Linked DNA regions of Homo sapiens: regions 2, 3 and 4 are each linked to region 1. The links come from fine-mapping of genetic effects on gene expression. A gene starts in region 1. Each other region holds a variant in brackets. All regions are shown on one strand. Distances are between the middles of the regions.

Region 1 (7,865 bases):
CAGTTTATAATAGCCTTCACATCACCCTTCTTAGGTAGATTTTATTACTCCAATTTTATGGAAGAGGAAACAAAAACACCAAATGATAAAGTATCCAGTGAGTGGCAGAATTAGGATTTATGTTTGGCTTTGACTTCAAATCTATGGTTTCATCTGTGTCTCGGGAAAAAAAAAAAAAAGTCCCTGTCCTTGAGAAGCTTGTGCATGTGAAAAGTCCTGCATGCCACTCCTGAGAAACAGCTGTCACAAGTGATGTGTCAGAGGAGTAAGTGGCTCAGACTGTCAATTTTATAGAAATATTCAGAGGACAGAAGTTTGAGCCCAAAGTATCACACTGTCTCCAAGGCGCATCACTAGCATCGGAAGAAATAATTTTTGGTAGCTGAGATGGCAGAGGTAGGTATGTCAGCAAAAGTCCAGAAGCAGAAAGGATCCTTTGAAGAGACAAGGGAGTCAGGTGGTAAAGGGAAGTTGCTGAGGGATTTAGAGAGAATGTTTCACATGCCCTTGGATACGTCTCAGTGGGTGGAGAGGAGCCCTGGATAGAATCAACCTTCTGGGGCTTACCATTTTCACTGCTGCCTTCTCTTCTTTCTCCATTCACTGTTGCTAAGGACCTTAACCTATCGTCAGGCTCCTTATTCGGGGCTCTGGTTAAGGCCACTCAGTCCCCAGGAGCTCCCAGGATCAAGTGCAGATTCTCAGGCTGTTGTTCTAGCTCTCCACTCTCTGTCCCACGTTGTGGGATCCCCCTGGTACGCTGGCCACCCCGGACCACTTTTCACCCAGGCCTCCACTTTGTCTCTCTACTTGGAGTGTCTTTGTCCGCATTTCCTGCCTATTGAAGTCTAACTTCCCACGTCATATTTTAGCTTAAAAATGCGCTTTTCAAGAATCTGCTCTCAGTTTCCCCCAATCACAAAGAATTCTTTCTTTTCCTGGGTCCACACAGCAAATATCTCTGTTAGTCTTTTTCCACAGGCAGCCTGCCTGTGTCCTCCTCAAGACCAGGGAACTGTGTCCTTATTCCATTACTTAGCACAGTGCCTGGCACTTTGTCCATGCTTCATCAATCTCTTTTAAAAAAGAAATACATGAAAAAGATGTCCTTGAAACTAGCACAGCTCAGTATACATTTACTTTAATTAAGATATTAAGGTTCATCTTAGCACACATATTGTGAGTGACAACCATCTGAAATTCAGTCTCAACTTACCTGCCTCCTAAATGGCAGTTTAATTTCACTATAATCTTTATGATAATAACCTTTAAACTTGTTATTAGTATTACTGATAAAGTTAAAAGACTTTCATCTGGTAATTTTGTCTTAGGAAACATTCAATTATTAAATTCCACACTGATCATTAGAAAACCCTATTATTTCATAATGGGCTGGGCAATACCATGCAGGTATCCCTCGATTATTGAAACAGAAGCCATCTCTAAGTGTGTGGAAGTGAAATCTCATGCATCAAATAGTCTACTCACAAACTTGAGCTGTATTAGTAGAGACAGATGGGTGTAAAGTGAAAAGTCCTCTCATGGTCTGAAATGATAGTGTTTTATGGGGATGAATGGTGTTTGTGGCTGATTAGTCCTCACTCTTCCCAAAACCTGGCCAAACTCAAGGTGGACAGATTAAGCCAGAAAATTTTAGGGGTGTGTGTATGTGTGTGTGTGTGTGTGTGTGTGTGTGTGTGTGTGTGTAGTAGACATGGTTTACCTCATGGCAAGAAGGCTTTTCTCATAGAGCCACTCACAGATAAAACACCTTTGCCAGACGGCTGCGGTGGTTCACGCTTGTAATCCCAGCACTTTGGGAGGCCAAAGTGGGTGGATCACGAGGTCAAGAGTTCAAGACTAGCCTGACCAAGATGGTGAAACCCCGTCTCTACTAAAAATACAAAAATTAGCCGGATGTGGTGGCAGGCGCCTGTAGTCCCAGCTACTCTGGAGGCTGAGGCAGGAGAATTGCTTGAACCCCGGGGGATGGAGGTTGCAGTGAGCCGAGATCACACCACTCCACTCCAGCCTGAGCTACAGAGTGAGACTCTGTCTCAAAAAACAAAAACAAAAAAAACACCTTTGCAGGAATTGACAACAGAGGCTGGTCTAGGGCATGGGGAAAACTCAAAAAGAGAACGGGAAAGTGTTTCTTCTGGTCCTAAGGACCCCTTCCAAGTGGGAAAATATTTCACTCTAACTAGACAGTGCCTTCCTGCCCTCTGTGAATTTTTGCCAAAAAACAGACCAAGAGCCTCTGTGGGCAGTTCAGGAGAGCCTTTCAGAGTGCAAAGGAAGCTTGGGCAACAAGTCCTCCCAGGGGAAACACCCTGGATCTCAGAAAGGAGAGGGGCCTGAACACCTTCTCCTGATGCTTCCCGCCTCCTCTGATCCCAGCCCACACAGGGCCCCAACCCATGCAGCTTCGGGCACGTACCTTGGCACACTATGGGGATTTAACACATGTTTCATGATGTTCTGGCTGATGGACTGGGAAAGGAAGCACCCGAAGCCGGGGTCCCCAGGAGCTCTCCCTCCCCTCAACAGGAGCTCTGACTCACAACCTGTTTGGCACTGCTGAGTCCTCTCCGGTTTCCTGAATCTCCCTCTCTCTAATGCAAAAAGCCTCCATGGCAGATGTTTTAGAACAATGATCACGTCAATGACGCTGTAACCCACTACTTTCTTTTTGCATCATAGAATTTTTTAAGTGTTTTTGCAGACTTACTCTTTAAGGTTAATTACATGTTTTGGATTGAGCCTTTGGGAAGACTTTACAGTGGTCCTATCGGATAACTGCGGGCCCCAAGGCTGGAGATCTGTTAATAGGGTGGGCAGAAAGGGACTGGGAGCGAGACTGGGTTCAGAATCTCAAGTAATTTGGAGTGTGCCTAGGGATTGGGATGATTTGGCTGGGCATTAATTTGAAGGTGAATATGCGTCTAGAGATTGCGGGGATTTCTTTTTCTTGGAGGGCAACCGTGGGTGTGGAGGAATTTGGTGTGCAGAAACAGAAAGGTCTGGTTCGGGCTTCCTCTGGGAAGGCAAGGCCAAGTGGCCAAGGCTGAGAAGGGGCAGGGGCGACCGTGCTGGGGCGGGTCCGCACCAGCTCCTGGGAGCAGAGAGCAGAGCCGGGCAAAGAGATGGGGTTGTCCAGGCTAGGGTGAGGACGCGGCCGGTGACAGCGCGGGTGGGGATCCCCCGGGGCCGGGGCGGGGCGGCTGCCGCGAGCCGGGCTGGGGGCGGGGCGGGGCGGGGAGGGACGGGGAGGGGCGGGGCGGGGCTCCGAGGCCGTCTCGCAGGCTGCGGCGGCCGCGGGAGAGGCGTACTCGGCGGCGGCGGAGCGGGCGGCAGAGCAGGGCGGCGGCGACTCGGTGAGCGCGGCGCGGCTGGGGGCGCGGCAGGGGCGCGGGCGGGGGTCTGCGGGCGCGGGGCTCGGCCTGCACGGGGCACCGCGGGGCACCGCGAGGCGGGGCGGGCGCCTCCCTGCCATCCTTCTCCTCCCGGACGCCCCTGCAGCCTTTGGGAGGGAGGGAGAGCGGAGGACACCGTCCGGGAGCCCTTCTCTAGCGATCGCCGGACAGAGGTCCGGCTTTGTGCCCCGTTGCCCTCTTTCTGAGAGGGCTGCCTCCTGATTGTGTTCCTTTCCCAGACCACCCTCCCTCGTCCCTCACTCACTTACCCCCCACCCCAGGTATCATAAGCTCCATTCTTGCAGGGGACCCCTAACACTCCCCTTCCCACCACCCGAGGCCCCGGGGTCCTGGGTACTCTCTACAGCCCCAAAGGGAGGGATGGCCCCCTCCCCAGCCCCTGCACACCTGGACCCTTCTGTTGCCACCTGCCACAGACGTTCTTAGCCAGCCAGAAAGCTGCTGTGCCTAGGACCCAGCACACCTTGCCGTCACCCTCTCTCCTCCCCCAGAACCCAGAACCCCAGTTTGGCAAAAGGCACTTTTCCAATACTGAGCTTTGGGAACAATTTGACCCACTTCCCAAAATGCTGGTCCCAGGCCAGCCATGCTTTTTGGTGGAGACACCTGTCTTGTCTGCCAGGAGACATTCTCTGTCAAAATGGGCCAGCCCGTCCCTGGGTCCTCCTCCAAGCTGCTCCTACTCGCTAGCCAGTGTCCCCAGAGACCAGGGCCAAGATCTTTGTCATTTAAGGCCTCCAAAGCTATTTCCCCACGCATCCCCAGAATTCCCCCAGCCACTGTTTTGGGGGTGCCAGGTCCAGAACTGATGGAGCAATCTTTCTGTGTCCAGGGCCTGATGTCCTCTCCCACACCCTTGTTTACCCGCCTGCTCCCCAGGGAACCCAAGACAGGGTCATGGGGCTGGAGTTTAGGGCCCTGATCTCCCCTGAAGCTCTGTGACCCTCCTTTTCTCCCTGTTAGAAACTTTCCTCTCTGTCACCAGTCACTATCTCCTCTGGATGGGACCTGGGCCATCTGCACAGTGTCGAGTCCCCAGGGCACAGAATGCTGATCTGGGACCCTGGAAGGCTGGGACTTGTGCTGGGGCAGCAGGAGGAGAGTGGCTGCTAGCCAGGTCTGGGCTTGGGTACCAGAGTTCTTTGGGTGGATCATTGTCGGCTTTCACTGATCTCTGGTTGGGGTTCGAGGGCTTGCTTTGCAGTGGAGACAGGAGGCAGAGCAGGGGCTGTTTTTCCTGCGTGCTTCTGACTGTCTTGTGTTGCTATGGTGACAGTTTTGCCTGTCTTCCTCCTTCTGACTCTTCTGGGAGCTGGTTTTTATTGGTCCGTTGTCCTGTCTTTCATGGCTCTAATTTCTCCTTTCTACTTGCTCTGAAATAAACAGTCATAAACATGGGCGCTGGGCCCAGGCTGGGGGCTGGCAGAACTTCACCTCCTGCTGGCCCTGGGTTCCTGTGAGGGGAGAGTGGGAAAGCGAGGTGGAAACAGACCTGCCCACATTCCCTCCTGCCTCTGGGCTCTGGCTCTGGGAAGGGGGCAGCAGCAGCATCACGGGCTTGGGCACATAGTGGGCGCATACTGCCTCAGTGCTAAAAATAGATACCAAATGTGGCAAAGGACCTCACTGGTGTTATTTCCTTTCATCTTCACAATAGCCCCATGGGGCAGGGGCTCTTTCCACTTTGCAGATGAGGAAACTAAGCTCAGAGCAAGTGAGTTATTTCCCTAAGGTCACATTGATTTGAGCACACAGTCAGCCCTCAGTTTTGGTTCAATGAATGGAAAAGTGATGAAGCTGACATACACGCATCTCTGTTGGGCTCCCTGGTCCTGTCCGAGGGATCACAGGGACTTCCTTAGTCCAGCTGCCTAAACCCACACTATAGGAGGCTCTTTAGAAGGTGTCTCCACTTTTCCTGTCCCTGCTGGACTACTGTGGAGGGAGCTGCCAGGAAGCTGTCTGGAGTGTCCCAAGTGTACCCTTGACCTGAACTGTTGAGGACCCCAGCTGAGAGCAGAGCAAAGCCACTTGTGACTTCCTGTTTTTACTCAGCACCAAGAAGAATTCAGTTTGCATTTGCTCCCAGGCCTAGATGCAACTAGATAAGTCAGGGACCCAGAGTCAAGTAGACCCTCCCAAGCCAGCCCTGGGCAAGGAGTTCATAGCTCCCCAGGGCCATAGGGGCACCCACTGTCAGCTGTCAGTGACCCTCTCCAGTGAGGCTGTTCCTTCCCTTCCCTGGTGTTTTTTTCTTCAGTACACGCTCTTCTTTTCCATTCCCTGCCAGTCCCTTCACATTGCCATGCTCTAGGTTTGTTAAAAATAAGCTGAGCACGTATTATGGTAGCACAAAAAGACCAGAGAATCAGCAGCCTCAGTGTCAAATGTTGGTCCTGAGAAAGTCAGTTCACTCATATAGCCTCAGTTTCTCCATCTTTAAAATGGGGTTGACAGCATCTATCCTACTGGCCACATTTTCTTGTTCTTTTAGGATGGCATAGAATAGCCTACCGGGAATGCTTTGAACACTTTGAAAGGCTGAAGGACCCATAATGTCCTAGTTCTATTGGGAGATCTCAATCTTAAAGACAGCCCTGGACCACTGTCCAGAGATTGAAAACTAATTTAGGCATAATTAAGCTATAAAATCTCAGGGTTAGAGGCATCCTCCAGGGGCATTTTGCCCAGCCTTGATGTTGAATCCTCTAACTTATTTATGTATCTTACATTTATTGAGTATCTGCTTTGTACCAAATACAGTTTTGGGAACTAGGGGTTCGAAAAATGAGCAGCATTTCTGTTTTCAAAAAAAAATTTAGTCATGGAAAAAGATCCTTATAATACAGTTAGACAGGTGGTATGATAAAAGGAAGGGCAGGCTGATGTAGGGCCCAGAGGTGGCCACTTGACTAGGTCACCCATGAGGGTTGAATCAGGTGATTTGTGCTTTGGGGCTGAAATACATTTGTCCTTCCACTGTCCACTTGAGGAGCAATGGAGTGATGGTTGGAGAGCCACACATCAGCCCTTGTGAGCAGGGTAGGGGAGAGAAGCATGGCAGGGAGCCAGGACTGCCTTTCTTACTGAGTTTTGACTCATCCTCTCGTAGAAGTCTCCGGTTCCAACTTCATCATGGTTAGAATCTTGTCTCAGGAGCTGCATGAATTACCTGACAAGACATCATGGTGATTAGAAAGAAAGTGGTCTTAAGAGTCAGGCATGAGTTCAAACTCCACTACTGCTTTGTCTTAACTGTGGTTGAAGGTGCATCTAACCTCTCTGGGTCTCAATTCTTACATCTGAGAAATTGCAGTAATTATACTTGCCTTCTAAGATTTAAATGATCTTATGTATTTAAAGGGTCTGGCATGGTGCCCACTTCACAGTAGACTTGCTGTTATTTAGTTATATTGATTAGAAAAGCGTTCTCAGTTACTGGACCTCTGGGTCCCCTTAAAACCATGGTACAAAGCTCTTTGGATGAATTCTAGCCTTTGGAGATCCATTCATTATCTGAGAAGGTTAAAAATTGCCCATGCTCAGGCTCCTAGCACTGCTGGTTAATTTTCAAATTATTGCTCACTAGATAAGCTATGTTCTACAATACCACAACAATGCACGAATCACCAACACTCTTTTTTTCAAAGGAGAACAAATTTGAAGTGGCAGCAAACACCCTGAGTTTTAGAAACATATTCTATCTGTGAGAATACTTTAAAATGAATGCCTCGTATTTTTTATTCTGAGCATGTTGAACTTCTTTTTTTTAAGTTACTATAAACATTAATATACATTTTTCTCAATTATCAGTACAATTCTATGACATTAGTATTATTGTCCCCATTTTACAGTTAAGAAAATGGGGAAAGGTAAAGTCCCTTGCCTCGTGTCTAGAAGCTAGGAAGTGGCAGGACCAGAATTTAAAGCTAGGTTCTGCTTGCTCTTTGTGCCGTAGTACACAGCATTGTCGTTTCCTTGGCTGGCGTGTCAGTGACCTAAAATAATTGTGTTTGGAGAATGCAGGCAGATTTTAACAGGGGTGGAACCAGTCAGTGTTGTAACTCAGTCTCTTAGTAAATATTTAGAGAGTTTATTAGGATTTTGCTGTCACCACAGCCTTAAGAATTGCTTCTGCAGTTGGCTGGGATGTTATTTCTATAAGTGATGAATAGAAGAGGAGTTTGACACATCTGAGTTAAAGGAAAATGTTTGATGATGCTAGAAGTAGCTTCCTTTGCACAAGAATGGATTGCTGATTTGTCACTGAAATAAACTGAACCTTTAAGCAGGCCAAGATTTTATGATTGAACTTATGAATGGAAAGCATAACAGTTGCTTTCCAGGGATACAGAGACAGGAGAAACAAGGTCAGAACATATGGATGGATGGCTCTTCAGATACAAAGGTGACTTGGATTCAGTTTAT
Region 2 (7,865 bases), 61 kb after region 1:
TTATCCAGTCCTTCCCATCCATCTCAGTGGCCATAAATGAATAATGCGATGTGTGGGACCCTGCTTGGTGGTTGGGCGGGGAGGAGTGAGGAGGAGTGGTTGAAATGGCTAAAACACTGACAGCCAGTCAGAGATAGCCCCTGCAAGAATCCACAACAGCAAAGGTGCTTACTTATGCCTGGGGTTTGGGGAGGAGGTTACTGGGAGAAACGATAGGCCGTCTTTAGGCGTTCAAGGCAAAAGGAACAGTATGAGCAAGAAAACAGAGGCAAGGACCGGGCACTCTGGCTCACACCTGTAATCCCAGCACTTTGGGAGGCCTAGGCAGGTGGATTACTTGAGGCCAAGAGTGCAAGACCAGCCTGACCAAGATGGTGAAACCCTGTCTCTACTAAAAATACGAAAATTAGCCAGGTGTGGTGGCACACACCTGTAATCCCACCTGCTTGGGAGGCTAAGGCAGGAGAATCGCTTGAACCCGGGAACCTGGGAGGCAGAGGTTGCAGTGAGCCAAGATAGTGCCATTGCACTCCAGCCTAGATGACAGAGCAGACTCCATCTAAAAAAAAGAAAAAAGGCAGAAGCAAGGAGGCAGGAGCCCTTCCACTGTCATATTCTGGTGTGGCTTATGTACAGAGTGATCAGAGTAGCTTCAGCAGAGGGGCGGAATCTTGAAAGAGAGCTCTAAGCCAGGCTTATAGCCTTGCATACCAAGTAAAAAATTTACCCAGCTTTATTTGACAGCCAGCTTAGCAGGCGTTTATGCTAACCATGGCTAACTTCGTCGACTCAGCTAACTCTGTATTCTATTTGCTCCCTGGATTCTGTCTCAGGAAGTAGCACCCCCCACCCGCCCCTCCCTGCCTGACAGGCCCACCTCCCACCACTCTGCAGACTCTCACCTCATCCACCTTTCCTGTCCCAGCCTTAGGTTGACCGTCTGCACAGCTTGCTCGGGTACCAAGCCAGGGCTTTTATTTTAACATGTTAGTTTTGTTTGCAATGATGAGTACGTTGAAACAAGGGCAATTGCTCCTTTCAGAAGCTGGAAACAAAGGCAGAGCCGCACCTGTCTCTGAGATTTCAAGTGAAGTTTCAACACTTTGGACATTCTTGATGCTTGAGATTTCACGGAGCATGCTAATCTCTCTTGGCCTCATATTCTTCAGGTTTTTTGTATGTGATGGCTTTTATTGGATTTTTTTTTGTTTCGGTACCAACATAATTTTTTATATCCCCCTGCACTTCCCAAAATAAATTTGACCTGGGAGCAAATTTCCTTTGCTCCTTTGCTTTGACATGTCACATCCAAAGCCTCCTTTGGTACCCAGATGAGCTCCAGTTTAAGAAAACTCAACATCTGAAAACCTTCTTAGATGTCGAGTCATCCCAAGGTCCTGGGGCCATCGAATTCTGCAGGGCCTTTTGCTTCCCAGAAGGACCATTTTCATCAGGACTCGCCTCCTGGTCCCTTGACCTGATAGGTTGTATTTTACCACCTGCCAGAGAACTATGGAGGCAGATAAACTTCAAGAACAAATGTGTGACACAGTTGCCTGTGGAATGAAAGCTGGGCAGGGAAAAGGAGAAGGCCTCTTTTTCATTTTGTTTTTTTTTTTTTTTAGTTATATTGTAAGACAACAGGAATGGAAGAGATTTAATTCCCCAGAATTAGTTGTATATGTGACATTCCCTGTAACATGTTCAGAGACTGGTGAATGATCCCAGGGGTCTCAAGTATCCAATATAAGAGTGGGAGGAGGAGAGAGAGAGACTGGAGAGAGAGAAAGGAGGAGGACACCCAAGAGAAGGGCATCGGGAAGAGGAATGGATCTAAGGGAGACATGGAGAGAGTTTGGTGGGAGAGTGGATCAAGGGGTACAGCAGGTAGAGAAATCTCAGGTGGTGCCCAGGGCTCTGGTTATGACACTGGGAGGATAATAATGCTTTTTGTTGGGTGAGGGAAGAGGAGAAGATTTTGGAAAGAGTGGAAAGTGAGGTTTCTATGGCCTTCCCCGAATGGCTATGCTTGTGGGACATTCACTTGGATTGATGGGCCTGGAGCTGGGGACAGAAGTCTAATATAGAGCCAGAGGTTGAGAGTCATCTGCCTATGGGTGGAAATTGGAGTCAGAAGGGTCACACCAGGGAGAATGAGAAAAGGCTGAAGAAAGAACATGGAGACCAAGACTTAAAGGCCAGATGGACAAAGTAGAAACTTGAGGAGGAACTTCCAGAGAGGTGAGAGATGAGGAAGGAGATGGGTCCCAAGTATCTCAGCAAGGAGAAGTTGCTCAGCGGTGCCCATGACAAGCCTTCACCTACAGCTCTGCTCTCAGAGGGTTAGAGGGTCTTGGCTGTTGTTTATTTAAATACTTGAGAATGAATTCTGAAGAAAGGAGGTTTGTAATCCAAAAAACTGACAGCCTGTTTAAGCGAATTCACTATCAGAACAGCCCAAATTTGAGATAACTTCTAGGTGTTCCCTTTTACTTTCTAGACTGGAGTTGAAACCAACCAAGAGAGGAAGAGCAACTTGCCCAACATGACACTAAGTGAATGGTGTCTCCAAGATGAGTGCTTGGGTCTCTGGGGCCCCTTGCCCTGCATGGGGTACCTTTCCATTTGAAATTAGGCAGAACGGGCCTGGGTAGGCTGAGAGTGTCCACCTGCCTAGGTAAGAAGCAGGTGTCTCAAGCAGTTTCCTCATAAGCATGTTCTTGATTTCCCAAGAGAAAGGGGACAGATTCACTAGTGACTTCCCAGCGGTGGCCTGGGCCGGAGCTGAGCCCAGTTTGATTGCTTCCATGTCACTAGCATTTGAAAGTGGGGGACACATTGACTTTCATTCCCTAAAAAAGAATCTAATTTTGCCCTCATTTCTTGGGTACTTTTTGCTGCTGTACTATTGATGTTTATGGAAAAATTAGCTATGATGAGGTAATAGTCTATTTTAGAAAACTGAACTCAGATATTGAAAGAACTATTTTAAACCTGCACTTAATTGTTCAATTCCATAATGGTTTC[G/T]TGGTTTTTTTTTTTTAGAATTCCCGTGAATTGCCTTACAACTGGACTCTAGCAGCTTGTATTCCATGGGGAATGCCAAGCCCTTTTGAGGGACACCATGGTATTAATGATCGATGAGAATATTCAAGGCATTTTCTCATTTGAGTGCCATTACTTGTAGTGTTAAAACGTTTTGAAAACACACTTTAGCCATTAACTCATTTTTATTGTCAGATGAAAGTGCTTAATAGACTCACTCCACTTCAGTTTTCTTCCTTCATCTCGGAATGAAATCGTCTGTTGGATTCTTGGCAATACATTTGACAATGGAACAGAAAACCTCATGACTTCATTGCAAAAAATGGCAGATGGAGCAGGGATGTGCAAGCCCAGCCCCGCCATCTAAAATGGCTAACCTGGCTTAGCAAATACAGGCTCCCAGAATGTATCAACTGAGCTACTTCATTCCAGTGGTGCATATTTTTCCCCAGAAAAACAGCTGCTTATATCATTTAAGAAATGTACCTTTAGATGAGAAGTATTTTTTAACACCACCTATTGATATATTGTAAGCTGATGATTAAATGGAAGTGGGTAGTTTGTTTTGCTTGTAATTCAAAACAGTCAGATGGTGTACATGTTGTAAACGGGGTTCTGTGGTGACCAGGAGAAAGCGTGTCTGAGTCATCTGAATACTAGACATGTCAGGGCTGGGCCCCTTCCTCCTGGGACACCCACTGGATGCCAGACGATGGCTGGGAGGAGCCAGAAGTGCTGCTGGCTTTGCAGAGCACTGTGGGACATCTGCAAGCCTTTGATGTCACTGACAACAGTGGCCGCCCTGGCTGCCCATCAGGATTTCTCCAACTCTGAACCTTGCTGATAAGCTTGAAAGGTAGATTGTCTTAATTGCCCTCCTAAAATCACATCCAGTCTCCAGAAACATTCCTAAAGCCAAAACTGGACTGTTTTCCTCTACTCTGTTTTCTTCTACCCTGCTGGGGAAATCTTGGGGCCCCATAGTAGCTAGAAGGTCAGACTTAACGATAAAACAAAGCGAGGTAGCAGGTGCAGATGAAGGCGCTGGCCTGACGACGTGAGAGGCCAGGTCACGCTTGTAGCTCTGCTCCCAGCCCCACACAAGGCATAGCCCAGGTGCGTGTTCCTAGACTTCAGGATTTCAAAAACCAGTAACATTTCCAAATAAACCTGGCATATTTAGGATATAATTACAACATCATTTTCCAACATAAATAAAAACCGTGTAACATAGAAGTGTTTGAATAACTTTCTGAAAGGCTCATGACGTAGGCTTTGTTTTTCTCATTTTGCCTTGGAGGGCTTGGGAACCACTAGTCAGAACAATCCTAAGGATTTATTTTTCAGTGCTTACTACATGCTAGTCCTGTCCTTAAGTGCTGGGAATACAAGGTGGTGTAAAAGCAGCCCTGCCCTAGAAGACAGGGAGATACAGGAGAAAGCGTATGTAATTATGGTTTGCTGCGATAGGCACTGTTGCATGGCCCACAAGACATGTTAGGTGAGCAGAGACGAGGAGCTCACTCAGAAGAGTGGCTTTTGTTTTTACTGGTGTAGAATAGAGGGGGAGGGAGGGCTCAGGGGGTCCTTCCAAGGGTCCTGATCTTCACCCTCCTACTTCAAAGGAAGTGTGGGGGAAGCAATTGCCAAGAGCTGGTGCTTAGATGTCAGATAGAAGGGGATTCCAGTGACCCTGATCTGTCACTGGTGAGATGCAGTAAGTTTCTAAGTCTTTAAGATTATTTATCTCTGAAACTGGGATAATAGCAGTAACTATTTCATATGGTTGTTGTAAAAATTAAAATATGGCAATACATAAAGCACCCTCCTCACTCTGGCCTGCAGATCATTAAGAATGTTAAGCAGACAGAGCAGCATGTGCAAGGGCCCTGAGGCAGTCAAGAGCAGAGCCACTCTAGGGATGGGATGTGCAGGGCAAGGCTGGAGTGGAGGGGGCGGGGTCCAGGCGTTCTGTGCCCAGTGCATTCATTTGAATGCATTCTGTCCGACAGGCACTGGGGAGCCACAGAAGCATGTTAAGCAAGGAAGTAGTATCTCAGATTTGTGATTAGGAAAATGGCTCTGCCGGCAGCATGGAAATGAGTAGAAGGGAGACAAGACTGGTGTCAGGAAGATCAAGTTGGAGACTATTTGCAGGATACTGGCAAGCTCTGCCAAGGGTATGAATCAGGAAAATCAAATTGAGAAGGAAGGAAAGTGTGCAAAAAAAAAAATTATTCTGGACCACCAGCGAGGGTGTCCTTATTAGGGAGCAAAGAGCATTCTGAGTTCATCATGTCTTAGAAAATGAACTTGATGCCCCATTTACTCTTTGTATTAATGGAGAGAGCATGAGATTGAGAGCCACAACATCTCTCTTCTAGTCCCTTCTTTGACCCTAATGTGCTGTGGATTCTTGGACCCATTCTTTTTTTGTAAAATGAGAGCTTTAAAAAGATGACCCCAGTTCTAATATGGAGTGTATTCAGATTAAATTTGGGGATGTAGGGGGCCTGTATATTATGAAGTCCAGGACCCATCTGGAGGACCTTGGGAAGGACACTTACTATACCTGGTCATGGAGTTCTTATACCCGTAAAATGGGTCCAATGATAACTTTTCTCCCTTTGACATATGTTCATACTGAAGATAAATGCAATCAGACACATCTTTGACAAAGATGTGAAATTATATAAATATATGTTATTGGTGTATTCATGGTCAGTCTGTAGTTTAAATGCTATGTTGCCAAAAAAAAAATTGGATGAGTCAGGACTTCCTTATTCCCAAAATGTTGTTATAGGCAATCTGAGTCTTCGATTTCTTCAAGTCTTTGCACCAGAGAGGCTAAAGATTATAGATTCTGGAAGGTATTGGGTCATTCAAAATGATAAGAAAATCTATCCCTTCTGATAGAGGTCTTCTTATCTGTTAGAGATGAGTATTATTGTCTTAGATTTTAAAAAAATGTTAGAAAATAAACCCTGGTAGGGCTGCTGTTGTATTGATTTGTTTTCTCACCTTCTGTTCATTATTGATAAAAAGTAGCATTGGCTTAGGAATTCTCCTTTCAAATAGTCATAACCAAAGAAAGAAATCTCCTAGGAGCTTGTGATCTACTCATGAAGGTTGAGCATTGAAATTTTGGTATACACAGGCAGAGGTCATCATTCACACTGCCCTGTTCCCTGGGCCTGCTTCCTTTGATATGTCTTATTTATAGAAAACAAATGAATTTCTCCATAAACCACAGTCACTTCTTTTTAAAATAAACCCTGCTTGATTTCATTTGGTTTTATACTCTGGGAGTGCAGCTAATGCTATCAACTTATTTTTCTTCTAAACAAAAATAGAGTTGCAAATAGTGAAAAACAGTGTCTGCATATATGAATTCTCTCTTTTTTTTTTTTTTTGAAACTGGAAATGTGACTAGAGAATTATTTCTTAAAGAGAGTCATGGTTTTCCACTGAATAGCCTTAAAGCCAACTCTCATAGAAGTGGTTTTGAACTGAGAGCCAAGAAAGCGGTCATAGAAAATACCATGAGTACATCCAAAATTGTCACCCCTTAAAGATGAGTGCCTCCCTTGGCAAGGGCGTGCAGGCAGGCTTTAGAGGCATTGCTACCACTCCTAAAATGACTAGAGAAACACCCATATTCTAGACTATTTGGGGGAAAAAAATTGAATAACCTATTTCAAAATACTAGCACAGTAAATGAATCTTGAGGAAGAAATTCTCTGTTTTTGGAGGATTGAGGGGTCACCCAATGTGTATTCTGTGTTCCCTTCACACTCAGAATCCCCCCCAACCCCCTCAGCTGGAGGGCTTCTCTCAGCCAACCCGGATTCCCAGTATTCTTCACGTTGGGTGGCAGCTTGCTTCTTCTATCGAGCAAACTCTTCCAGAAGACTTCACCCCACATAATTTTCTCTTTTCCTTCATTTCCTAAAGAAACACCTCCCTTCCTGTACATGCTATTGAGTAGCACTAGTGTAGAGCCAACCCCTTTGGAATCTAATGGAAGCTATGGGCTGTCTCCCCAGAAAAAATGAGCGTGTTCATTCAACAATACAGCACCCTACACATACCTTCAGCTGACCACACTCTCTGAAGTCCCCAGGCAGGGGCCTCCTAGGGATGTGGAGCCCCAGGACTTCTACTGTGCAGAAAAGAGCATAGTCTTCAGATTCACAGAGTTTCAATGTCAAATGTGACTCTATCTTTTATTTTCTTGTAGTATTTGAAAAATTGTTTAGCCATTCGAACCTCCTTTTTATCCCCCCAATCAATGTGATGATAATTATAGCTACCTGATGTTTGCTGTAAGGTTTGAATGAGATAAAGTGTGTGAAAGCTTCAAGTATAGTGCCACACACACAGTGGGCACTCAATAAAATGCTGATGTTCCAGTTTCTCTCATAAATTATAGTAGTAATAACTATAATTACTCTGTTACTTAATATGTAGCGGGGACATACTATTATTTTCACATTCAATTAATATATTTGAGTACTTATGATTTATCAGGAATGTGATACGTGCTTCTAGATAGATTAAATTGTTTAATTTAACTAGTGCTGTTTCCCTAAATAGAATGTGCATCACCTGAATGCGGAAGCCATGTCTTCTCTCAGTGCATACCCCACCTGTAAGTGCCCTGGGGATTGAGTAATTCTCTCAGAGTAATTGTTAAAGGTAGCATTTTCATTAGAAAACCAAAGGAGGAAGAAGAAACTTGCCACCCAAACTGTTATCAGATTGCCTTTTCGTGGGATAGGCATTGCTTTTTCCTTTTATTTTGCTGTCACCAAGAGAGT
Region 3 (7,865 bases), 35 kb after region 1:
AAATGAAAGTTTCTTTTCACAGTCTTTCCATTGAAGGAATTAGAAAAGTCATGGGATACCTCTGGTCTTAGAGCAGAAATGAAGTTCCCCAGAAGGGGGTCCTGGACAGAATGGTCTCTTGGGCAGGGACTAGATGCTGTTACTTACCATCAGATGTGTCTACTGTAAGATGCTTGGGAGGCATCAAAGTGGTGACAGTGGGGGGCTGTTGGATTTTACCATTCTGGAATATAAGAGAAGGGGTGTGGCTGGTGTTTTAGTCCAGATAGCAGCTGTGACCACTGGGAGCCTCATTTTCCACACCTGCAAAAGGAGAAATAGTGATCCCCTTCCTAGTGTTGGTGTAAAGAGTAGATGAACCTCTGCCTGAGTCTCAGATGCCTGCTGCCCACTTGGTTGCTTAGTGGATCGGCTGGCTGTCAACAGTGTAAGCTTATCAAGCCTAAATACTTAGTTGGTCTTGACTTTTTCACCTCGACCATGACTCAGTGTCATGTGCTCCTAGTCATTCTGTCTGTGGTCCAACGTTAGCCTGGGAAGCACCTGGGACTGAGGGAAGAACCCTCAGCTAGTTATTCAGCGATCCAGGTTCTCCTCCTGCCTTTGATATCACCTCATTATATAACCTTGGGAAACACTTTGGTGTGACTGGAATGTGGATACTCCCAGGGGAAGGGTAGGAGCATGGTAGGGCATTTGGACTTTATCATGAAGGTGGTAGGAAATACTTGAAGGGTTTTAAGCAGGGATGACACATCATCAAATGTGTGTTTTGAAAACTTTTTTCTGCAGAGGACAGGGCCACAGCCCAAGCAGGATCAAACCAGTTAGGAGATTGATGTAACAGTCCCGTCAGAAAGTGATGAGGTAGCTGGGTGCGGTGGCTCATGCCTGTAATCCCAGCACCGTGGGAGGCTGAGACTGGCAGATAGTTTGAGACCAGCCCTTGGCAACATGGTGAAACCCCTTCTCTACAGAAAAAAAAAAAAAAAAAAAAAAAAAAAAAGCCAGGGATAGTGACCTGCACTTGTAATCCCAACTATTCGAGGTGGACATTGCAGTGAGCCAAGATCACGCCACTGAACTCCAGCCTGGGTGACAGAACGAGACCCTGTCTCAAAAATAAATAAATAAATAAATAAAAGTCATGAGACAACTCATAGGCACTAAATGCTGAGTGGCACAGACAGAAAGTTCTATGAGAGTTCAGCAAAGGGAGAGGTCAGTATGGATTGTGGTCTTAGGTGGGTATCAGAGAACACTTCAGGGAGGAAGTAAAACTCTGCTGCTGGCCTTGAAGGATGGTAGACAGGGTGGGGGGTGAAAGTCTAGGCTGCAAGGCAGGGCAAGAGGGTACAAAGCTGCAGTAAATCACATTTGGGCTTAAGCTGGGAGTTAACATAAAGGATGGCTCTAATTAGTATGCAGTCATTTATGGAAGAACTTGTACCCTCAGCTTAGGAATATGGATTTTATTAGAAGTGGTGGTTCTCACATGGAAACTGCATTTTCCTGTAGTCAGTTTCTGTGGGGAATCTTATCATTATCTATTCTTCTATCCGCTGCTCCCCTCATTGGGGTGGAGGGTGTGCACCCCCCTCCTGCAGCCCTGTGCTATTGGGGAAGGCAGAATCCCTTTGCATCTTGGGGACGAATGCAATGCTGAATACTGATCATATGACCCCTGCTTTGCCTCACAGCAGGGAGCCTAGGAACAAGAGCAGCTGTGCTATTGTCTGGAGCGCAATTGCCAGTGTTTGTCTGCCGAGGCCAGGGATGACCCTTGCCAGCATCATAGATAAGCCGGCTCCCAGCTGTCATGGGTGCATTCTCAATCATTCCTCATCCTATGGACTCTGACTCTCTCCCGCTTCCCAAGAATGATGGAAGTTTTTCATTTTCCCCCGTGCCTGCTTTGTGAAAGTGTGTCTGGCTCTTCCCACAAAGATGAAGGATGACCAACCTCAGAGTATCCAAATAAAATGAGATCTGTACTTTCTGTGAAGTGTTAGGAAACAGTTTGCTAGAAAATAGTATGAGCGATATATCATTGCCTCTGAGGCTCACATGAGGAAATTGAGGCTCATGAGTGTGTAATGACTCCCCTGAGGTGGCACAGACAGGAATTGGTAAGGTGGAAACTAGAAACCAGGCACCCTCTGAACTTCAGCATATTCCTGTTGGGTTTGAACAGGAGCATTCTATAGAAGAGGCTTCATTGTCAGGGTAGTTTTAGCAGAGGTTTGCCTGATAAGAACATGACTTTCTCAAATGTCAGTGTGTCTCCTAGGTTAAGCTCTTATAGAAACACTCCGCTGAAGGGCACTTCCAGGCATTGAGAGTCCCAAGACTGTTCAGCCACTGTGCATGGGGCAAGTCACTTGCCATGTGGAACTGGAACCCAGATCTCCTGCTTCTCAGCCCAGAGTGCTGTGCCTCCTAGCCGGCCTTATGGCATAAGTGGTCTCTACGGAACACCCAACAGAAGCCACCTGACAGTGTCCCTTGTAGATAGTGCTGCAGGCTGGGGCACTGGGAAGCTTTGAGGTGGTCTGTGGGACTCAGGGGGTGTTCGCCATGTGACACCATGTGGCCTTTGGGTACATGAGGGCTGTAGGTGTTCACAGGATATACCAGAGCATACCAGGATTGCTGGAAACTTGGACAACACATGACTGTAGCCAGACTGACTCTAGATTGTCCTCACTGCAGCGTGGCCATGGTACCATTGCTTAGTTTCTCACTCCAAGGCAGCGTTGGCCTAGAACCTCTGTAACATACCGTTACATCTGATAGTCAAGGTCAGCTTGGCCTCACTCATTTAGGGCAGTAGTATTTGCTGAAATTCAAATAGATACTAAATACTGCACTGGTCACTTTAAATGCTAGGTATCCCTAATGACCCTGGAATGAAGTTGTTATTCTCATTTTGCAGATAAGGCAACTAAGGCTTAGCTCCAAAGACCTGAGACTGAGGTTTATGATTGTTGGGCTTGAGTCCCCAGGCTCTTTCTACAGCCCCATCCTCCACTAATGCTTACTAAAGCATTTGGGATATCAGCTTACCATCCAGCTACAGATGAAATTTAGAAGCATCAGTATGTGTAAAGTCCTCCACAGCCTGACAACAGCCTCTTTTTCCACTCATCTACTCACTGTATCTCTGCCACCTCTTTCCTTCCTCCCCAGCTACGCTGGGCTATTCACTGCCCTCAGAGAAGCTGAAGTTTACAATTCAACCATCACCTCTTCTCATTTGTGCAGGGCTCTGGGCTAGTTACAATCATTTGTAAAGATGAATGAGACATGACCTCTCCTATTAAGTAACTTTCCACTCAATGGTGGAGATAAAACACGAACACAAATATAATAGCTCATTTGGTTTTCAAAGTAGTCCAAAGAGGCTTGCTGGTATATATCTCCATATGATCTGCATTTAACAGGTGTTGTATCTGAGGATCTGACAGTAGTGACTGACTAAAGGTCACACAGCCCAGCCAAGGCCAAGTTAGGGGTAGACCCGGGTCAAGACCAAGTCAAGGCAACCTCCTGGCTTGCATCACCTGGGGGTGGTCAGGCTCAGACTCCACAGCCCAGATTGTTGGTTTTTGTCTTATTGCTGCCTTCCTGATGGAGACAAGGCAGGCTGTCAGCCGCTGACATCTCAAACCTGCTTAAGGTGTGCCCCTTACCCCTCCCTAATGGTGATGCTCCTGTAGTTGGAGCCGTGGATGGGAAGAGGGGAGGTAAAAATGACCCTTTGTCTGACATCCAATTGTGCTGT[T/G]GCTTGGGGTTGTCTGAGAAGAGGAAGCTGGTCTCCTTGGGTTTCTAATGTGTCTCCCACTTCCTCACTCAAAGGAGACCTGGTGTAACTGACATTCTAAAATGCAGTCTCAAGGAGAAGGAACCCACCCCAGCGGTTGTGTTCAGGCAGTGCAATGTGAACTCATCGAAAAGCTTGGTGGAGTTTCCTGAATGCTGCAGCCAGTTTGGCAGGTGTTTTCCTGCCCTGAACATGGGTGCACTCACCTTAATGGCCATTCAGGTGTTACAAAGACCACAGAGAGATGTTAAACTACAGCCTTGGGAAATGGGACTAATGTGAGCCCAGGAGTAGAGATCTGGGCTCTTGTTCTGGTTCTGCTACCATTTGCCACTTGCAATTGCCTTCTCTGCCCCATGACTCATAAACACCACCTCTGAGGGTGGCCTGGGTCCTCTCCTTTGCTGTAGAGTACAGTGGTCAGGGCCCAGGTGGGGGTCCCTCAGATGTGAGTCCAAATGCGCACTTCGTTATCTACTCGCCATTAACCCAGAGCTCATCACTCAGCCTCTCTGAGTGACTGTCCAGCTCCTTATCTGTAAGATGTGGATAATAGGAGCACTGCCATTTCCAGCAAGAGTGGGGCGAGGGCTGGTAGAACATCCAGGTGATGTCTAGACCATGCCTGGCACACAGTCAATGCTCAGTGAATAAGGGTTGGTATCTTCTGCCCCATCACCATCATCACCGGCGTGTTGGCCTCTGACTGTCTAGGACTGCCTGAGCCACGGCCACTCCCAGTTAGTCACTATCTGGTCTCTGGGCTTCTTCCATGCTCGGCTTCCCACCATGGGAAGGCTGCATGCTGGGTGGCATCAGACAAATCCTTTCCTTTTCTAGGTCTTAAGCATCCCCCAGAATAACATTATAACATATAGTCATAATCACAGCTGTTGTGTGTTGAATGGTAACCCGTAAGAAGATAAGTGCATTCCCTAATTCCCACAACCTGTGCACATGGCCTAATTTGCAAAAAGGTCTATTTACCAAAAAATCATCACTTGCAGAAGCCCCTACACAAAACAGGTAAAAAATATCTCTATTCCTTTTATCACAGGATGAGGGCCCAGAGCCCTGCACGTCAGTGCCTCCAAGAGCCCTGCCAGTTTCTAGGGCTGCTAGGAGCTGGCAGGCTTCTCTGGGGCCTCTGAAAATCCCTGGCCTCGAGGTCCTATGATGCTCCATGATTAAACATACGCCAGAAACGGTCTCTTCAGAGAACAGACAAATGCCCTCTGCTTTCTCATTAGCTCTGCACTTTACCTGTATTGATGGGAGAGTTTGTTAAGAGTGATTTCCTGGCTTCAAAAGAACAGCAGATTCTTCCTTCCTCTTGTCAGAGATTCCTAAGAAGGCAGATTCTTAGGGAAAGAGTAAAACAAAAACGAGCTTTAAACACCACCTCCTTCCCCACTAGGCCCAGTCAGGGGAAAAGGGAGGATCTCTCACCAGGTTAGAGCTGCTCACTCCCACGCATGATGGGTGCCTGCTGGCAGCAGAAAAAGGCCAGGCCTTGTCTTAGAGATGCGCCTGTCCCCTGAGGACCCCAGGTCTGTGTCCTCCCAGTAGACTGCGGTTTCTCCAGCAGGTCCAGTAGTGGTGGCAGCTGTATTCCCGTGCTGGTTTCCCATCTGCTTGTCTCAGGCTGTCCTCAATGGGACAGCCACAGAGTCCTCACTCTTGAGGGACAGGCTGCTTATCAGAACAGCTGGGTATTAGGGTTCCGGGGCTTCCAGGGCACAAGGAACCCACCAGTCTTTTAAAATACACTGTTTGAATTAGTGACACCCTGCCTTCTCAAACCATAACATGACTGCTTTATAACCAAGTGGCATCAGCCTGTTTATCTATAAGGCCAACAAGCTCCGTGAATTCAGAAGACAGGCAGGTGAACACAGGGAGAGTGGATTATTTGGAAAGAGTATTTGTGTGGATTGGGAAGCAAGGCATTGCCCAGAAGGGTCCTCTACCAACACAACTGGACATAAAAATAACCAGCCTGTGGGAGTGTGGATTGTATTCGGGTGACTGCATGTTCTTACATGCCTAGGACAGTCCTGGTGTCTGCCTGTTGTCCCAGCAATATTATTAAAAGGGCCCCCTTTCACTCTCAGAGGTATCCTCGTTTGGATGATAAACCATTAAATCACCCCAACTGTATGACTGTGTATATAAAAGTGGTTAGCAGCACTTAGTGTGGATGTGTAGCGTAGGGAGTATGTGGAAGTAAACGCCTGTGCCCATGTGCTCTGACAGCCCAGAAGCTGGCTGTGGGTTAGCACAGCTGCACAGTTGTGGGTAAGTCACTTAACCATTTCACAGCACACACGGCTTTGAGGTGAGATCAGGGGCCTCACAGTCCGATAAATGGTGGTTCAGATCCTTTCTCATAGCCTGCTAGCTTTGACCTTTATAGAATTACTTAGCTTTCCTCAACTGCAAATTAAGAATAATCATATGGACCTCTCAGAGTTGGTATCATTTTTACATAATCTATATACACATCTAGAATATTTCCTGACAAATCATAACCTGCCAACAAATGGTGGCTGTTGTTGTTGTTATTATTCTAGGGCTGTGACTGTTTTTGGCTTTAGCTCTTCATTGTAGAAATGGTGAGAGATGACCCCTGTCTTTCCTGGCTTCCCAGGCATCATGAGGCTGAAACCCAGTGGCATCCCCGAAGCCTGGTGTCCCGGGCATGTGTGCACTGCTGGTGCTGGGGATGCAGAAAGGGAACCGCCTGCCTGCCCGCCCAGCTGCTCCATCTCTCTGGGACATAGGAATTGGCTTTCCAAGGCATCATCCCCTCCACCCATCTCAGGCCCTGCCTTCATCCCCTCCCTGGCCCAGCCATGCTGTATAAACACCAACACCAGGATGTCATTTACTGGTGTTGCCTGACATTGGTCGGCTGCTACCCAGAGGGCACTAGGTACCAAATTCCTAATTCTGCCTGCACAGCAGCTGTCAGTCTTTCCTGCCTGGAGAGTCTCCTATCTTCCTTCTCTCCTTTTGAAGGAAGGTGTCATCTGTTCCTAGTGTATTTGCTTTATTCTCTTTCTTTCCACTATTTGGCTTTGCAGAATTTGAGCCAGACTGCTTAAGTTCACACCTTGACTCTATCACTCAAAAGCTAAATCCCATGGACAAGTGACTTAATCATTTTGTGCCTCAGTTACCTCTTCTGTAAAAGGGGACAATAATAATGCCTACCTAGTTTGGTTGCCATGAGGTTTCAGGGAGTCACTACATGTACAGTGCTAAACAAAGCCCAACACACAGTAAGTACTTGATCAGTGTTAGCTATTTTTATTATCCAAACACCTGCCCCTTCTGGTTTCTCAGTGTTGCTCTGTGCTTCTGGCATTGAGGGACTCAGTCTAAGCTCTGCTGCTGGTGAACTGTGGGCACAAGCATGCCCCACCCTGGGCTTTGGGTCCCTTGATTGCCCACCCCGGAGGGTGGGGACACAGTCTTTGGGGCCCTTTCGGCCTCCCGTAGTGGATATTGCCTTCCCTTCAGTTGTTGTGCCTTGCTTTTCTATTTCCAGAGCCATTCAGAAGGGGAAGGCAGCAGCCGTTTGAAGCTCTTCCCTAGCCCTCCCCTGAATGGGGTGGGGTGGGACAGGACATGGGGAAAGGTCGCTAGACTGGAAGACAGGAGATGCCTATTTCGGGCCCTAGTTCTGTTTTGAGACTCTGGATAAGGCACCTCCTGTCTCTGATTTCGGCTTCTCCATTTATAAACTGGGGTGATTACCCCTCAGCTTTGTACCGCTCTCAAAATGAGCAAAGATGAAAAGATATGGAAAAGCATTTCACTGGCTGCCAGGTGCTACAGAAGGGCAAACTCCTGATTGTGTTGTGTGGTGTGAAGCCCCACCAGGCCAGGCACAGGGCATAGCACTGTGGAAGTAGCCTGGGCCGCCTGTGGCTGCTTGGATGGGAGCAAATGCATGCTGGTGTTGCTGGTGATATGTGAGGTTGTGCTGCCTGTGGAGATGCGAGATGAGAGTTTTCAGTTTCTTTCCCCCCTTGCT
Region 4 (7,865 bases), 93 kb before region 1:
GGCCCAATTTTTTAGTTCTCATATCTGAGTGAGAACGGGTGATATTTGTCTTTCTGTGCCTGGCTTCTTTTACTTAACATAATACCCTATGGTTCTATCCATGTTGCTGCAAATGACATTTCATTCTTCTTTATGGCCAGAAAATATTCCAGTGTGTGTGTGTGTGCGTGTGTGTGTATGTATACATATATATATATATACACACACACACACATATACACTGTGAAGATGTGATTATATATGTATATACACACATATACATATATATATCACATTTTTCTTTATCTACCATCTGTTGATGGATGTGTAGGTTGATTCCATATCTTTGCTATTGTGAACAGTGCTACAGTAAATATGGGAGTGCAGGTATTCCTTTGATATACTGATTTACTTTCTGGGAAAGAATGTTTTTATATAAAGTTATTTGTATCTTTCTTCTTGGAAGAAATTAGAATTTCTGACAAAATTGTTGAGTAATTTTCTAATAAACTTTTGTAGGACTAAGAATTTTCTACTCTTGCAGCAAATTCATTGAAATAAAAATATAAAGCTCATAACTGACTTGTTTAGAAACTATTTTTAACAAGCTTTAACCTTTCTGTAAGGGTCCCTCTGAATCGTGTCTATGAAATGTGCTTTTAATTCAGAGGGGAATGGGTGTGTCCATTTGCTATACCAAGAGAACCGAACTCCACTTTGGTTGAGAAACACAATCAGTAATTTAGTAACTGAGGAATAAAAACCACAGAGAGAGAAGAGAAGAAAACAAGAGGAAATGTTAGGAAAGGGAAAGGGAAGGAGCAAATTATTACAGCTCCCAGGAAGCCCTTGGACCCACTTGTTTGCAGAGGTTCATAAGCCTTACTGAGGGCACAGGATGGTGGGAATGCAGTGAGGAAGGAGATGTGAGAAATCAGAGAAGTGCCCAGAGTCACATCTCACAGGGCTCTAGCGACCTGGAAGGACCTGGGCGTTTACTCATCTCCTGGGTGGAGAAGAAACTGCGGAGGGGCAAGTGTGGAAACAGGGAGACCACCTAGGAGACTGAGGCTCAGGGAAGCAATCCCGGGGAGGGGGGACAGTGGCGGGACCATGGCACTGGAGGCAGGGAGATGGGGCAGCCTTGTGCTGGATTTTGAAGGGAAAGACACCAACCCAAATAATGAAAAATCAGAAGCAACATGGGCAAGGACAGCTGAAGGCAGACGCTTTACTTCTGGAATTTCAAGGTCACTTTGTTGTGACAGCAGTCAACTCTTCCAGCGAACTAGATTGTGCTTTATCATAACAACCTTGTAAAGTACTGTACTTCTCCTTTGCTTTGCTTGGTTTTACATGTGGGTTCTGTTTTTACATAAAACCAAATGTGGAACTTTATTTCAAGAATTCTTTTGTCACTAGCCCTGGTGTAATGTTCTTTTCTTTCTTAGTAAGATTTCAAATCACGTTTTTGTTTGTTGTTTGTTTTGTTTGTTTGTTTGTTTGTCTTTTTGAGACAAAGTCTCGCTGTGTCACCCAGGCTGGAGTGCAGTTGCGTGATCTGGGCTCATAGCAATCTCTGCCTCCTGGTTTCAAGCGATTCTCCTGCCTCAGCCTCCACAGTAGCTGGGATTACAGGTGCGCGCCACCACGCCCTGCTAGTTTTTGTGTTTTTAGTAGAGACGGAGTTTCACTATGTTGGCCAGGCTGGTCTCGAACTCCTGACCTCGTGATCCGCCCACCTAGGCCTCCCAAAGTCCTGGGATTACAGGCATGAGCCACCACGCCCAGCCTTCAAATTACTTTTTAGAGCAATAATAGCAACAGTAACAATAACCGCTAACAAAATTATGGGCCAAGTGTTCTTCTAAGCAGTGCCAGTCACCAGGAGGCAGGTACCACTGTCACTCTCATCTTACAAAGAGGAATTGGGCAAAGAGAGTTGAAGAACTCATATAGGTCCCAGATCTATGAATGGAAGTCTGGGGATCAAAGCCAGTCCTCTAAGCTCCGGGTCCTGTGCTCTTCTTGACCACCAGGCCCTGCTACTTCCCAGCACAAGCCTGCCTATGTTTGTATCCTTGCAATTTTGAAAGAGGGCAAATTATAAATTCAAAAAGTATAAGCAAGTTCTAATTTAAACACGATAAGGGAAAGCTTGATAGACACAACTACAATGCAAATTTCAGTCTTCAATCTGTTTCTGAAAATATTTCTTTTTCAAATGCCACTTTCATTTTATTGCTGTTTATCCTCATCACATTCAAAATTTAAAGGCTAGCGTACCCAGGTCCTCTTCTGATCTGAGAGTAGCCACCAGAATCTGCTTGAACACCATTAATAGCTTCTGTGGGCTTAGCCCTTTGGAAGGTAATGGGGATCGTTACCTCCATTTTGGGGTCAGGGTCTGAGAAAGACATTGTAGTTCCATATTTATCGTGTTGTCACCTAGAGCTTAAAACTCACACCTTTGCACCCAAGAGCCTAGTCCCCTACCAGAAAGCTGGGCCTCATATGGACAAGGCAGATGGCTGATGGCAGGATTTCGGACACCAGTATGATCGTTTAGGGCAATACATTTGCTCTAAGGCCAGCTGTTACCCATGCATGGTGCTGTGGGGTTAAAATCAAATTAAAACAAACAAAACTAGAAAGAACAACCTTGGATGTTGAGTGAAACAGACCTATATTTGCATCCTGGATTTAATACTTAATACCTGGGTCACTTTGCAAACTACCCTTTCTGAGCTTGCCTATAAAATGAAGCTAAGAACAATCCCTGCCTCTTACATTTGTTGGCAGGCCAACTCTTTCTTCCAAGGCCAGAAACTGTATCCCGGAATAATCTTCCCTGTGTAGTCCCATATCCCCATTCAATGAGCAATGCACACCACAGCCAGAGGCCCTGACAGACTCTGGGACCAACCTTATTAATGGGAGGCCTGAGAAAACACCCAGAAATGATATCTATTATTTATAATTACATAGTGCCTGCCATTTTTATGAGATTTTTTTCATATATTATTTAACTGTAATAACGGTCCAATGCAGGAGATAC[T/C]GTTAGCCCCATTTTTCGGATAAAGAAAGTGAAGCAAAGACACGCTGAATGAATAAGTTGTCCAAAGCCACACTGCTACGAAGTGGTAGAGCGAGTTTTTGCATCTCAACAGTCTGTTCTGGATCTTGACTTTGTACTGCTGTGTCTCTGAATATTGGACTTACTTTCCAGTGAAGTAAAAAGACATATAAACAGTTGATTCGAAAGCAAGGTGGTAGGCCCAGCGATGGAGGCATGAAGATGTTAACTCAAGGAGTCGGATGAAGGACACCTTCCTTAACTTGGTGGGTGAGAAAAGACTTTCTGCAGGAGCCGAGGGATTACATCAGGAGTTCCTAAGCATTAGTGCACATGCGAACCACTTAAGGTATACATAAGATCATGCCACTCTCCGCCTACGCCTACTGATGACCTCCCATTGCAAGCAGCATACAAACCCAACTAGTCCTTCCAGATCCAGCCTTCCCTGTCTTTTCTGATCCCATCATCTTCGACTTCTGTCTTGTCCGCTAGCCGGCTATCTCTCCAGCCTTCTCTGTGTCTTGGACCTGCCAACCTCATTCCAGTCTTGGGTCCTTTGCACTTACTGTTCTTCTTGTTTGGAGTGCTCTCCCCTCATAATAACCACCTTCTGCCTGTCCTCCACAGCTAAGCCCTCTTCAGACCAGCCTCCCGTTCCCTCTAGCTGACATAGCTCCGTTCCAAGCCATTCTTTATCACAGTGCCCTATTTATCATCTTCAAAGCCCTCGTTAGTACCTGAAATTATCCATCCATCATTTCTGCATCTATCTGTCTGTCTGTGTGTTTGTCACTTGTCTCTCCCCACTAGACTGTAAGCTGCTGGGGGCAAGGCTGTGTCTGTGCACACCATATCCCAGAGTCAACTTCGGTCCCTCTATCAGTATCGGGTAGATTGCCTGGGAGCTTCCGAAGGAGGATTTCCAACTGCTCAGGGAAAACTTCCTGGAGGAAGGAAGACTGGTGTCGGGACCAAGTGATATGAATTTAGGAAAGAGAAAGAAGATGTTTATGGCAGCGGGGGGTTGGCCTTCTTTTTCGTCTAAAGCAGCAATTCAAATTAAAAAATAAAATAAAATAAAGGACGGACATCACCGTGAGGTGCTCTGAAGTGCTAGAATGGAGGAGTATCAGACAAGGAGCCCAGAAACCTGTGTTATTGCCCCATCTCTTCAACTAATTTATTGAAAGACCTTAGGTAACCTCTGTCCCCTCTGGACTGCAGTTTGCCCATCTGAGAAATGAATGGTTGGGATTGTATTGGTCTCTAAACCACCCTTCAGCGCTCAGATTCCAGAAGGATACATTTTGACCATCCTTGTCCAATCACTGCCTCTAGCCAGGGACACACACTCAGCTCTGTCACCATGGAACAGATGTGTCAGCGGCAGCAGGAATTGTTTAATCTGAGCCTCCACCTGGTCCCTCCAGTATGCTCTAGGCTTCCTCGCCCTAGAATGTGGTTATTAACTCCGAGTGACCACCAGGTGGCGCCGTTCCCCAAGGCACTGTGCATCCTCCAGAAGGTCATTTGAATGCCCTTGGAGCTTGATGACACGCAAATAACCCAGACCGATGTTCAGTAAATATGTTGGGGTGCTAGCTCTCAGGGGATGAGAAGGCATTGCTACATAACCAGATGTAGAGAAAACTGAAACGTGGGAAAAGCTGAGAAGAGCAGCCTCCTCTCCGAGTTTATACAGCCAGACCTGAAGGGGTGGAAGGGGTCGGGACTGCATTTCTCCGTGGGTGCTCATTCCTGCCCTGTGGTCCCCACGTCCCCACCCGGGCCCCTTGACCCCACCGTCACCTCGTGAAGTTTCTTTCCACAGCTGTGAACTCGAGGCCACGAGGATTTTGCAATCTTCATTTTTGGAGAAAACACAAGGCAGTTGTTGCTCTGACCCAGGGGCTCTGGCCTGCGGGCCCTGCAGCTGTCTCTACAAGAGGCACATGCAGGCAGGGGCTGGAGAGAGGAATGAGCAGGGACCATCGCACTTGAGATTTGTTCTCGCTCTCTGACAAATTCAACAAATATCCACTTAACCCTTCATCTGTGCCAGGTGTCCTGTGCCTCAGGCAGAGCTGATGCCGCCTTCTGGAATTCTCTGACCAGCAGGTAGACAGGTCCATAAAAAGGGGTGACAGGGCTCTACAGGTGACAGGACAGTCTAAGGAGGGTCCACCGAGGCTGGAGTGGCTCAACCTAATTCCCACAGAGACTCGGGCCGGTCAGGAAGACTCATATAACAACTGACACGTGAGCCAAGCATTGCAGGAGGACACTAGGAGGATGAGGGCTCTATCCATGTAGGAGGGCAGTGGGAAAAAGGCATGGCCATGAGAGAGTCGGGGTTTGGAGGGCTGAACATGTATTGGGGTAGCTGGGACTTAGATTTTAAAAGAAGAGTTAGATACCACAGAGGCAGGGAGGAGCCGGGGAGGTAGGAAGCACATAGACCCGGTGTATGGAGTGGTCCGTAGCTCTGCATTATCCCAGAGCAATGATAGTTATCTGGTCATCATGGGGCTTTCAGCTGGAGAAGGAAGGGATCAAACAGCTTAGGAGAGTGGCATGGCTGCACCCTGATGCAGAGATGGGTTGGGAGGCTGCATGGGATCAGACCAGAGCCAGACTCACAGGTAGGAGCTTTGCCGGAAGTCGATGCAGCCTGACTTAGGGCCGTGGCCACAGGATAGAAAGGAGGCAGCAAATGAGGATCACCGCCTGGCAACAATATCAACAGAGGAAAAATAAGCCCCATTGGTGGTGACAATTATTTTTTTCGTAAATCCACAGGAGAGACATCCTCAAGATGTAATTTATGTGTAAATCAGTTTGTATTTTCACTGGCTAACAGTGGAGGATATTTGAAGATCTTGTCTTCCTATTTCTTTGTTCACTGATTTTTTTCTGTTGAAATTGTTTGAAAATCCCATGTTTAATATGACTCGGGATTGTCCCATCTTCAGCTGTTTGCATAGTGTCATTTCCTATTTCTCAGGAGTAGCTGGCTTCAACGAAGCATCCAAAACAAACAGATGAGATGAAGCCAGAATCAAAAGGCCGAAAAAAATGTGATTATGAAGCAGTGTGGGTCGTGGGACCAGTTTCCCTTCACAGTTGTTTTTACTTACTGTTTGCATCAATTCTCCAAGCGGTGTAGATCGCCCCCTCTCCCCACCCACACTCACTCTAACCAAAGACACAGCTCGGACTCAGGGAGACAAGCCAGCCGCTGGACACTTAAGAAGGGCTCCTTCCAAGTCCCATCACTCTGCATCTGCTGGATCCATCTGGGCCCTGAACTCTTTACAAGACCATTGCATAGGCCACAGCGGCTCCTCCAACTAGCAGAGTTCTCCCGGGAGAGAAGGCAGTTCCTATCTAAGAACAGGATTGCAATGCCCACCTCTCTCTGCAGCTCCATCACGTGTGGCCATGTCCACAGCTCAGGAAGGGACAAAGGGCTGAGCCTGGCCCTGAACACAGGGCTCTGTTCTTGGTAGGATGTAGGATCCCAGGGGTGTCTGTGGACAAAATGCTACTGAGAAAATTTCCCCAAAATGACATGACAGGAACAGGAGATTATATTCTTTGAAAGGCCTGATTAAGGAGCTAGTTTGAACCCTGTGAGGATCCCTGTGATGACCTGGAAGTGAAGACTATTGGCTGATAGTCCCAAAAATATTGCCAACCAGCGATGCAAATGACAACCAGTGACTTAAATTATCTTAGCCTCAGGACTTTTATTCCCACTCTCCACCACTATAAATGAAGGGGGTTAACAGGATGGTCTTGAAGTTCCTTCCAGCTACAGTAGGATTCTCTGATTCCATTGAGAGTATTTTTACCAGTAGGTTCAGTAAGGTTGTTGGGGTGAGGACAGAAGATTCAAACTAGAAAACAATCAGCCCCTGCCCTCAAAGCATCCACAGCCCAGGAGGGAAAGTGTGCAGACAGACAGCAGGTGCACCACAGAAGCGATGCCCTGCAGGCCCCACTTTGAAGGATGAGGGGGGACTCCAGGCAAGACACAGCAGTCAGAGGAAACAGTAGGTGCAATGACAGGGACATGGGGAAGAGTCTACTGTCTGAAAACTGTGGGATTCTTCACTCAGGGCATGAGGATGAAAGAGGAGGTGAGGTGGCAATCACACCTGAAATTTTAGGCAGAGTCAGGATCCTGGAGGACCTTCACTGTCATACTAACAAGTTTAGCACCAACACTCAGTCTTACCAGAAAGGAGCTCTGCCTCCATCTGCGTATGGCCTTCTCTCCTCTTGTTTGTAAGAACACTTGGCACTGGATTTAGGGCCCACCCTAATCCAGGATGATCTCATCTTGAGATCTTTAACATAATCACAATGGCAATGACCTTTTTTCTAAATAAAGTCTCATGTGCAGGTTCAGATGTACATCTTTTATGGGGAGCACCATTTGCAGTGGTTAATACTGAGTGTCAACTTGATTGGATTGAAGGACACAAAGTATTGGTCCTGGGTGTATCTGTGAGGGTGTTGCCAAAGGATATTAACATTTGAGTCAGTGGGCTGGGAAAGGCAGACCCACCCTTAATCTGGGTGGGCACAATCTAATCAACTGCCAGCATGGATGGAATACGAGAAGGCAGAAATATATGAAAAGAGAGACTGACCTAGCTTCCCAGCCTACATCTTTCTCTTGTGCTGGCTGTTTCCTGCCCTTGAACATCAGACTCCAAGTTCTTCAGTTTTGGAACTCATACTGGCTCTCCTTGCTCTTCAACCTGCAGATGATGGCCTTTTGTGGGACCTTGTGATCGTG

Direction of the effects. Alleles are on the strand shown, and positions count from the first base shown. SD is a standard deviation of normalised expression in the study named. Not every link is listed here.
As copies of C replace T in region 4, the expression in adrenal gland of the gene that starts at base 3,323 in region 1 goes up (moderate effect, 0.50 SD a copy in GTEx).

What was found.
Region 2: its variant is fine-mapped to the expression of CYRIA in whole blood (TOPMed, PIP above 0.99).
Region 3: its variant is fine-mapped to the expression of CYRIA in whole blood (TOPMed, PIP above 0.99).
Region 4: its variant is fine-mapped to the expression of CYRIA in adrenal gland (GTEx, PIP 0.98).

What each region holds. Positions count from the first base shown.
Region 1 is chr2:16,661,292-16,669,156 of GRCh38, reverse strand. CYRIA (CYFIP related Rac1 interactor A) reads left to right here and starts at 3,323. Exons shown (of 12, transcript NM_030797.4): 1 at 3,323-3,377. RefSeq lists silencers at 3,117-3,286, 3,357-3,406.
Region 2 is chr2:16,600,305-16,608,169 of GRCh38, reverse strand. All of the region lies in intron 2 of CYRIA (CYFIP related Rac1 interactor A), which reads left to right. Among named protein-coding and RNA genes, the nearest start is that of CYRIA, 62 kb to the left of the region's middle. The variant G/T (reference allele first, on the strand shown) is at 3,028.
Region 3 is chr2:16,626,685-16,634,549 of GRCh38, reverse strand. The region is part of intron 1 of CYRIA (CYFIP related Rac1 interactor A); the gene reads left to right. Among named protein-coding and RNA genes, the nearest start is that of CYRIA, 35 kb to the left of the region's middle. The variant T/G (reference allele first, on the strand shown) is at 3,785.
Region 4 is chr2:16,754,050-16,761,914 of GRCh38, reverse strand. No RefSeq gene overlaps it. Among named protein-coding and RNA genes, the nearest start is that of CYRIA, 92 kb to the right of the region's middle. The variant T/C (reference allele first, on the strand shown) is at 3,038.